2 separate regions of the Homo sapiens genome follow, and region 2 is linked to region 1. Evidence: fine-mapped expression QTL. Tissue or cell type: whole blood. Region 1 holds a variant in brackets; the other region holds the start of a gene. All regions are shown on one strand. Distances are from middle to middle.

What was found. PIP is the estimated chance that this variant, and not a neighbour inherited with it, causes the effect.
Region 2: MGST1 starts here. The variant in region 1 is fine-mapped to the expression of MGST1 in whole blood (TOPMed, PIP above 0.99).

The regions. Positions count from the first base shown.
Region 1 is chr12:16,446,590-16,451,855 of GRCh38, forward strand. It overlaps a transcript of MGST1 not described here. Among named protein-coding and RNA genes, the nearest start is that of MGST1, 100 kb to the left of the region's middle. RefSeq lists enhancers at 3,369-3,943, 3,944-4,516. The variant C/T (reference allele first, on the strand shown) is at 2,872.
Region 2 is chr12:16,345,755-16,350,754 of GRCh38, forward strand. MGST1 (microsomal glutathione S-transferase 1) reads left to right here and starts at 1,891. Exons shown (of 4, transcript NM_020300.5): 1 at 1,891-1,956. RefSeq lists enhancers at 981-1,910, 2,841-3,770.

The DNA of each region.
Region 1 (5,266 bases):
TTACCAGTCCTGTGTTAATTGAGACTCCCAGGCCCCTGATGGTTAAATGCTGCCACTTAGCCTTTATTGATTCCATTTGTTCTGTGGCAAACAAAATCTCTGTGACAGCCCCTCCTATCATCCACTCTGTGACATCCCCTCCTGTCAAGCCCCAAGTGGTGGCTTGGGGAAGAGAGCCACCACTGAACTTCTTGTTGATTCTGGTATCCATCTCCCTTGTACACTCCTGATGGCCTTCTTAAATGCTTGGGGAACAGAGCCACCACTGAACTTCTTGTTGATTCTGGTGTCCCTCTCCCTTGTACACTCCTGATGGCCTTCTTAAATGGTACTTCCTCTAGGCCTTCCCATGGAACAATATAATCCTCTGTGGGTCTTCTGTCCTCACATCATATAGTCTTTGCAGCATGCCTATTTCCCTAAGCCTCTCTATTCCTTTCTCCACAGTCTGCCATAGCAACTCAAGTAATGCAACTTTACTCAGCATGGACCGTCACTTTCTCCAGACTTCTAAGAGATGCCATAGCAGAAAATTTATGCCTTTCCCTGCAGTCCTTGTCAAGTGTTAAATCCCATGGCCTTATATCCTGAGAGGATGGCTCTAAATCAATAAACTCTCCTTTATCTAGTTTCATGTCCTGCCTCCTTGATCAAAACTCTTAAAACCAGTCATTTATCCAAATATGCTGGCTAATCATTGAAGCTCTTTTGGGGGTATAGTGTCTTTCCTCACCACTCAGGTCTGGTATAACCTTGAGTTGCTTTTGATATAATTTAACCCAAAGTTTGGGCCTGGCATTTAGGAGATGAGATGAGGGAAAATCCTGAAGATGACCCTGTTGCCTTGTGGGAGAGAGGACTCTGCAGTGTTTTCTCATATGCAAGAAGGGTAGCTGTGAAAAAGGAAGGATGCACTATCTCTGCAGGATCTAAGGATTTAGAAAACTTTGGGGAACCCAAATCTTTGGGTGAATAGGTGCATCTGACTGATCTCATATGTCGGGATACCAGGGATTCCTAGCAAGGGCCCCAAGCTTGGCATAATAGATTTGACATAGTTAAACATTCTATACACTTTCCCAGCAGCCACTTTCAGCCAGGCATCCTGGAGGCTCTCCTGGCACTTGCACAGCTCAGATATTCAAGGTCCTGGTGGAAGATTATGGTGCTCACCCATGGGCCTCCCCTTTTTCATGGGCTGTAGGCCTCAGTTGCTGTCTAAAGCCTACAAAGAGTTCCTTTATATATTTTTCCAGATTTTCTAGTTGCTTATGGTAAGAACTTAATTTCAAAGCTGGTAACTGCATCAGGGTTGGAGCTGGAGGTCTCAATCAATGATTGCTGAATAAATAAATTCATTGCATTTGAGATGCATCTGGACATCTTGTATGTTCTGATGAATACACTGAGTAGGCATTGGGAGTCATCTATGTATGGTAGTAGTTGAAAGACACTGTACAGGTTGTCGAGATATCCAATGAAGCTTATAAAAAGGCCAAAGAGAGAAAAATGTTAAACATTTTAAATTTTAAAATGAGAAAAGAGCAATATTGAAAGGACAATGAGTACGACAATTAAGAAAAGACAGAAAGAAGAAACATAAATATTTTATTTAAACATTATTGTCCTTCAAATTAACAAATACTTACTGAATTTCTCCTATAATTTATATAATTAACAAAGAAGAGATTGTATGGATTTGTGGGTGAGTCAAGAATTAGGGTTCAATGAGGAAGAATTTTTGAAAGACTAAAAGTGTTGGGTTTCAGCCTAACTACTTAAAACATAAAGCAGTATAGATCTGGAGGATAGGGTTAATTCAGTCATCAGCTAAGCAAGGGCAGGCTTAAGACTTTGCTGCTATGATGCACACGAGATTATCAATTCAAAAAATATCAAGGTGGAAGAAAAACAGTAATGGTTCCAGAATTTTCATAGTGATGGAGATTTGGGGCAAAAATATGGTTGAAAGCAAATTCAGAAGACTTGTCTGGAGGTGACATTTCTCCATAAACACACTTTTAAAATTTAAAGTCTGTGTTATAGATGAATAAAAATAATCAGATTGATGATTTCAAACACATGTTGGCTGACTCTATTCTTATTTACATAATTATAGCAATTGTTTAAATTGGGATGGTTTTGTGAAGCAGAGGATTTTGGAGGACCTTTATTTCTCTCCAACTCCACCCCAAGCTATCCTTATCCTGCAAATGCAATGCATGACTGTGTTAATGAAAGAGGAGGCTGGGAGATTCCACATGAAAGAGTGAAGTAGGAAACATTATCCCAGTTGGTCTGAAAGGCATATATGTACTTTAAGAGATATCATTTATAAGAAGAGAGGGGGAAGGTTAGATGTTTAAAAGCTGAGCTAACAATGACAAGAATAGTCCATAAAAATGTTGGTAATTTTAATCCTAGTGAAACAGGAAGAATAATGATGCTATGCAGTCTTACGTTGAACTCTATGTAACTTTAGTTGTTATATTAGGCCATTCTTTTGCATTGCCATTAAGAAATACCTGAGGCTAGACAATCTATAAAGAAAAGAGGCTTAATTGGCCCACAGTTCTGCAGGCTGTACAGGAAGCTTGTTGTCAGTATTTGCTTCTCGTGAGGGTCTCAGGGGACTTACAATCATGGCAGAAGGTAAACGGGAGGTCAGTGTATCACATAGCAAGAGCAGAGCAAGAGCAAGAGTAGAGAGGTGCCATACACTTTTAAGCAATCTGATCTCGAGTAAACCCACTCATCACCAAGAGGATGGTGCTAAATCATTCATGAAGGATCTGCCCCAAAACCCAAACACTTCCCGCCAGGCCCCACCTCCAACACTGGGCATTACACTTCAACATTTAAGACAGGACC[C/T]CCACTCAAACCATATCAGTTGTTAAGGTGAGTATACAGTAATACATGTCCAGGTGGATATGTTTCATAGTTAGTGAAAGGTGTACAATTGGACGAAGAAAAATCCATGGCCATCTGCCTGTCTGTGACATAATAAATGCTCCATGTCATTGTTCATCAAAACAGAATGGCAATAAGCAAGATCAACTATATTGTGATGCCAATAGGGGGCCCTGTGGCTTTGTGATAAAATCCTACTCATTTATTCAAATTTTGCCCCAAAAGAACCATATAATTAGCTCCATTAATAAACAAGTGAGTCCTTCCACTCATCCATCTATCCCCCCATTCTTCCATTCTCCCATTTAGTGCCATTCACCTTCGTTCTTCATTAGTTAACAGTGAGAATACTCAAAAGGCAAATAGCTCTGCAGTTTTCTCTCCACCTCATTGGAATTGTGGGAACTTTTATTGAGTGGTGAGGGTTAGGGTAATGAAACTTGGAAAACTGCCATCCTAGGATCCCTCTGTGCTACCAATATGCAAATAATTTAACAGTAATGCAGTCAAGAGTTCCCTGAGTAAAGACTCTCCATTTTCATCACTGTTGGTAAGTGCCAAGAGGGACAGATGAGAATAAGTTATAGCCACACTGTGACATGTAATAAATCTTCCAAAAGAGGTTTACATGTACTCAGCTCTTTGGCTTTTATCCTGTGTATGACACTTCTGTTTGCTTTGCATCTAAGCAACAGAAAGTAATCAGCTGCTAAGAACTTAATTATTGGTTGCACGGATAACCCTTAGGGTGTCTGTGTCCAGTCACTTGGGCCTCCTTCTACATCTCTCATCACATAAAGCAATATGTTTCCCTGAGTGCCTGCCTCTCTGGAAAGCATGGTGGTTCATTTCTCCTTCAAGAGGAAGACAAAGGGCTGCTGAAACAACAAAATACAATGAAATGGCTGTTCCTTGGGAAAATGAGCCACTAATTGTTCTTGATGACTGAAACAAAGGAAGAGTCCTAGGGCTAGAAATCACTCAAGAGCAGAGCCTTGATAACAGTCAGAAGCTGAGAGGTAGAAAGTGTAAGGAATTCTAGGGAGAGGAGTGAGAAAATACTGTAACAGGCTTGCAAAATCCAACTCAGAATCGCACTAGTGTATTAATGAGACAAGTTAAACCAGTCACACTCCCACCTCTTAACCAAACTGTTAACACAATTTAACACACTTTCAAAGGGGCACCCCTATGATGTGCTAATGAAGTCACTTTCTTCCCAGCATGAGTGAATGGGCTTTTCCCCCTTTCTTGAGCTCTGTTTGATCAGGAAGACAAAATATTCAAATATCTTGTGAATGTAGGAGGCGGTTAGGATGGTTTTCAAATATATATATTCCGTGTGTGTGTGTGTGTGTGTGTGTGTGTGTGTGTGTGTCACACACGGAAACTGAGACATAAAGGACCAAATCTACAGCTCAAAGTTAGTACAATTATCTGAATTTGAATTGGTTTTCTGCTTCAGCTTTTCCTTACTGTTATTTAAATGCTGTGAAATTAATAAATACTGTTTAGGAATTTTCTCTTTTAGGATTATAAGTAACCTGGAAAATAACAATAACTGAAATGCTCTGTAATTTGTAAGCAGTCAACAGATGTATAAGTATCATTTCAGTTTTCAAAATTACATTGTAAATTGTTTGAATTGGACTTTGAAACAATTTTTCTTTTAACTATAGGTGGTGGATACATTCTAGAAACTTGCATCTTAAAGCAATCAAACAATTTATTTTCAGTATAGATTCAAGACTAAAGCAATCTCCGAATAGGTATTGTTTCACTTAGATAGCTCCAAAGACAAAAACTAGGTCCCATGAGGCTAAAACAGTGGTATGCATAGGGGGGTTTATTTTTACTATCCTTTAAACTGTCCACATACAATATTATACACACGCAAAGATATACAAAATACACTTTTTATGCATTACATATTTCAAAATAAAAGGAATTCTCAAAAAAACTTTGTTCCATAGCTGAAATATTAAAATAAATTGAGTAGAGGCAATGCATTTAGCATTCTTAAAAGTTTCTTGAAAGATTTTATAGAAAAACTGCCCATTATTCTAGTTGACAACAGTTATATGAATTTTTTAAAAAAGAAAACCTGTAAAAAACAAAAAAGGTCTTTAAACTATATGATATACAGATCACTATCTATATTTTTTTAAGAGCATCTAAACTTTGGTGGAAAAGGTTTTATAAGTTCTTATTGCTCTTATAAATCTTTGTGGTTATGTGACAATGATTCATGTAATATTATTGCATATCTGACTTTGGCAGTTACCCATTACACCATGTTAACATATTTCAATAAGTAATCAATTTGGTTTTCCAGTACCCTGATTTAATACAGGTT
Region 2 (5,000 bases), 100 kb before region 1:
GTTTATTCAATTAAACCAACTGCTAATATTCTACCCAATACAGTGTCATATATATATCCGTATGTATATATATAATATTGCCTGATACACACAAACACACACACACATATATATATGTATGTAACAGGCAATAATTGTTCGTGATTTAGTGATAGTAGGAACTCAGTATTTATTCATTGATCAATTAATAGTTTGAACACATTCTATATTTAGAGCATTAGATGAGTCAAGTGCTACTTTCTTTTTTAAAAAAATGTTAGAACCAGCTGGACGCAGTGGCTCACGCCTGTAATCCCAACACTTTGGGAGGCTGAGGCAGGTGGATCACGAGGTCAGGAGATCAAGACCATCCTGGCTAACACAGAGAAACCCCGTCTCTACTAAAAATACAAAAAATTAGCCAGGCGTGATGGCAGGTGCCTGTGATCCCAGCTACTTGGGATGCTGAGGCAGGATAACGGTGTGAACTCGGGAGGCGGAGCTTGCAGTGAGCTGAGATCGCGCCACTGCACTCCAGCCTGGGCTACACAGGCAGACTCCGTCTCAAAAAAAAAAAAAAAAAAATGTTAGAACCATTCAACTAGCATTCTGTAGACCAAATTATCTAAACAGTAGCTCTCCTCTTCCTTTTTCTGCCATGTTATCCATAAGATTTGGCCTGTATCACCTTATAATAAATGAAGAGAGTCTTAAATTCTTATAATACCAAACTCCTTTGGAGAGAATTCAGAATAGATTTATGTCATCTCAAATTCTATCCTATTCCAGTTAATGTTACAGACAGATTCTAGTATACTTTACAAAGATAGGTGAATAAGTAGAGTTTTGAAAAGATACAGACATAAAAGTGAAGAACAGATGCCTTCTGATGCTAGATTTTCCAAAACTCCTACTGTTATGCTTATATAGAAATCATTCTCAGACCTTCCTTGGATTAATTTCTGTTCCTAGAGCAAACTGGTAGTTATTTCTTTCTTTAATAGAACATGAACTTGTCCATCACATCCTAGAAAGTTAGTCCTAGGGATATCCTTTAAAGCCTAAAGGAGTAAATTAAGAGCAAAAAAAGGAAGTAGACCTTGCAACAGGTGGTGAGTGTCTGAGATATAGCACTAGGAGAGAAATAATATAGATTGAAAACAGAAATCCTTAAACATTTCTCATATAAACCCATGAAAGATAGATCCATAAATATTGTGGGGACTATGGGGACTAGGAAGCTTGGAAGTATCCCTAATCTAGATAGTGATGGTAGGCTAAATATCTACGGCTTCCGTAAACGTTCCTCTAAACCTCCCTGTAAAAAACACACTAAGCTGATTGTGTAATGAGCTGATCCAGTACAATTGCCTCCAATTTCATTCTGGACCCTGAACAGGAGGGGACATCGTGACAAAGCAAATTGTCTGGTATCATGAATTTGGAACACCGTAAGTGATCTTTACTGAGGGTTACATTCTGTCATTGTCAGCCTTTTAAGGAGGCCTTGCCACCAGCGCAGGGGAGGTGAAGTCTAAGGGAAGGTAATATTGTCAATGCCTGCTAATTAGTTCTACCCTGGAGATTTTAACTTTCTGCGAAGTTTTTAAAAACAACTTCCAAAACTCTGCTGATCCTGAAATGTTCGAGAATTCAGAGTTCCTAGACAATGGCTACTGTCCCCCTTCCCACTGATTAGGGGAGTTGGCATTTCAGGAACCAGAGTTTCTAAGGGCGCCAAATAGAAGGGCTCAAAGGGAATCAGCAGGCGATGGTTACTGTGGGCGGGTAAATCAGGTGATTTAGAGGAGGGGTTTGGCGAGGTTGGGGTCGGGCTTTAAACGTGGGAGGGCTAATTAACAGGAGATTAACTGGAGAGGGGCGGTGCCTGCGTCCGGCCCGCGCGGCCACAGTCCCTGCATTGCGCGCGACCCGGCGGCGGGACAGGCTTGCTGCTTCCTCCTCCTCGGCCTCACCGTGCGTACTGGGAGGGGAGAAGGGGACCGCATGCAAAGGGTGGCAGGCAGGGAGGGCCAGGGTGGGTGGCAGATGGAAGACTTGGGGGGGTCTCTGCCAGCTGGAAGTGCTTGGCTCCACTTAGCAGCTAAACTTAGCTTTTCAATCGATCGCTTTTGAAAGGGAATTGTATTTCTGTCCCCGTGCGGGTAAGTTTTCCCATTTCTCAAACTCCAGGAATGAAACGAGAGAGTCTTTTCATGCTTGAGTGATGATTTCCAAACTTAGCCTTTTCAAGTCAAAGTAACCTCCTGTTTGAAAGGGTCCCTTGAACTCTGGGGAAGGAGGAAAAGGCACGTGTAGTAATGGAGGAAATGCCTGTAGTTTGAACGACTGCTGTTCTCCCCAAGAGTGCAAAAGCCTGCGATGTCTCAGGTTTCATGGGCATAGTGGCCTTTATGCCTATTGTAAGGCAGGATTTGCTCTTCTGAGTTCACTTTGATAGGAGAAACATCAGCAAGTTTTAAAATAATACTAAATAATACTACTGCTAATAATGCTAGCTATCGAAACAAGAGGATGTGGGTTAGATGATAATATTTTTGTGTGATATTATAGCCAGTGACAAGAGAGCTAAGGGTGAGCCCCTTGGGACGGTTCTCACCTGTGCCCCACTTCCCCAGTCTGGAGGAGGAAGCCATGTGGAAGGAGAAAAGGAGAAGGGAACTCTCTTTTTCGGGAATTAAGGTGTCATATATTGCTCTAGCTGGCTTGGGACAGAGGAGAGAGGAGTGCATGTAAATCTTCTAGTCTCTCTGCTTCTCTTGAAATGTGGCAGTCTGAGCTCCACGTTTATATTCCCCTATTTCTTCTCCCTAATTTCTTACCCAGTGAGTGCTGAGTGGGTGCCCGCAAGCATTGCTGTATAGCACCCAGGCCTCCAGTGAGCAATCCTTAAAGCCCAGTTTTCCTGGGGTCCCAGCCTGCTGTGAGTCCCAGCCTACACCTACCTTTTGCATATGCTTTTCTTGGCCTTAGGATAGTACTGGACTTTGTTGTCCTCTGCTGTTTCCAAAATAAGAGGGCTATGTGTGCGATTATCTTTGGTAATTAAAAAAAAAAAAAAAAAAAAGGCAAATCAGTCCAAATTTGGATATTACCCTCTCTGGCAGACGAGTAAAATTTTTCTACCGCTTTGTTTTAGAGTGGTGTCTATGAATCCCTGAGATTGGAAAAGGAGGTCAGGTCAGCACAGAGAAAGGCCTTACCCCACCACTCTCCCGAGAGGCACCAGCATTTCACCTGCAGCCTCTGGGCTCTGAACCCCACTTTGCATGAGACCACATAGTGGGCTGAGTCTGCAGCCACCACGATGCCTTCAGGAAATGCTAGAATTCATCTAGAGTTCCAGATTAACGTATCCGCAACATGGCCACCGAATTATCTTTTTTCTTTATCTCATGTGTAGTGTTTGTTAGTTTTAGAAGGTACAAAATTGCAGAGTCATGGCCCTGGGGATGCGTGCCCAGATTATTCATGTGTTTCACAATATTGATGCAGAAAGGCTGGCCACCTCATCCTGAGAAGAGAACTTTGCTCATTTTGGCCAAAAGCCTGTAAAGGGAAAGGGCGTTCCTCAACTGAGAAGTGAAGATTCTTCTCTGCTAGATAGTACGGGGGTTTGGGGGGAGGGGTAGAAAACAGGAATGAGATTTGACAAGGAAAGGCCTCCAGAAGACCAGAGCTGTTGAGAATTCTTAGCCTTGATGGTGGGTAGCCCAGAGGTAAACACTTGAGAAAACTAAGTTGCAGTCTTGGTCTCTCCACTGTGAATTTGGGTCATATTACTCACTACTTTTCTGGGCCTTAATTTCCTTACATACTAAAGGTAGAAAAAAATATTATTTGCTCTACCTCAGGATTTTTCGGGTCAAGCGAGATAAAATATGCAAAAGCTTTTTGAAAATTCTAAAATCCTCAGTGCCTAGAACAGCGCCAAAGTCGGAAGTTTTTTATTTACCAAACACACAGCATTTAACAGGTCCCAGAGCTTCTTTTTTTTTTTTTTTTTTTGAGACGGGGTCTCGCACTGTCACCCAGGCTGGAGTGCAGTGGCACGATCTCAGCTCACTGCAAACTCCGCTTCCCGGGTTCACGCCATTCTCCTGCCTCAGCCTCCCGAGTAGCTGGGACTACAGGCACCTGCCACCACGCCCAGCTAATTTTTTGTATTTTTAATAGAGACGGGGTTTCACCATGTTAGCCAGGATGGTCTCGATCTCCTGACCTCGTGATCTGCCCGCCTCCGGCTCCCAAAGTGCTGGGATTACAGGCATGAGCCACCGCGCTCGGCCCCCGCTTTTCTAACTTTATTCAGCTAAGGCTCACAAGAATCCAGTGAAATGGGAGTTCTTATTCAACTCCTTTCACAGGTAAGGTGAAGAGGTCCCAGAGAAGTTAAGTTACACTTACTAAGTGGCAGGGTCGAGATCCACCCGAATGCCAATCTAGTTCCAGAGTTTTGAATACTTGACACTCTACCCCATGTCCTCTTATGAAGAAGTCACCTCCACATTAGGGGACAGAGCTCTGGTCTCTGGCAAGAGAGGTTGAGATACTTATTACCATGCTGGCCAATGAATGGAGAATATAATGAGCAAACAAACCACTGTGCAAACATGATTGATCATTGTAAATATTTTCTATAATTCATAACCAAATTAGTGTTTTTCCCTGCTTACTTTTCTTTGATTATTTCTCCTTCATTCCTTGAATCCTCAAACCACTTAACATTTCATCCTGTTATTTATTATTATACAGGACCACTCTTCTCCCTCCTGACAACCTTTCCTGGTAAAAGGCTTTCAGTAATTTTGTTGTGGCTGCAGAGCCAACCATGATAATGGCTGCAGTTTTGTGCAGCAAACTCGTGGCAATTGATTGATAAATCAGCTTTGGGGGAAAAAAAGTTTACAACAGCATTGCCTTAATCCATGCTATAAACAACTACTATTTCTTAATGTTCTTACCTTAACTGCTCATTACCTGGCTCTTGGGTACCTGTG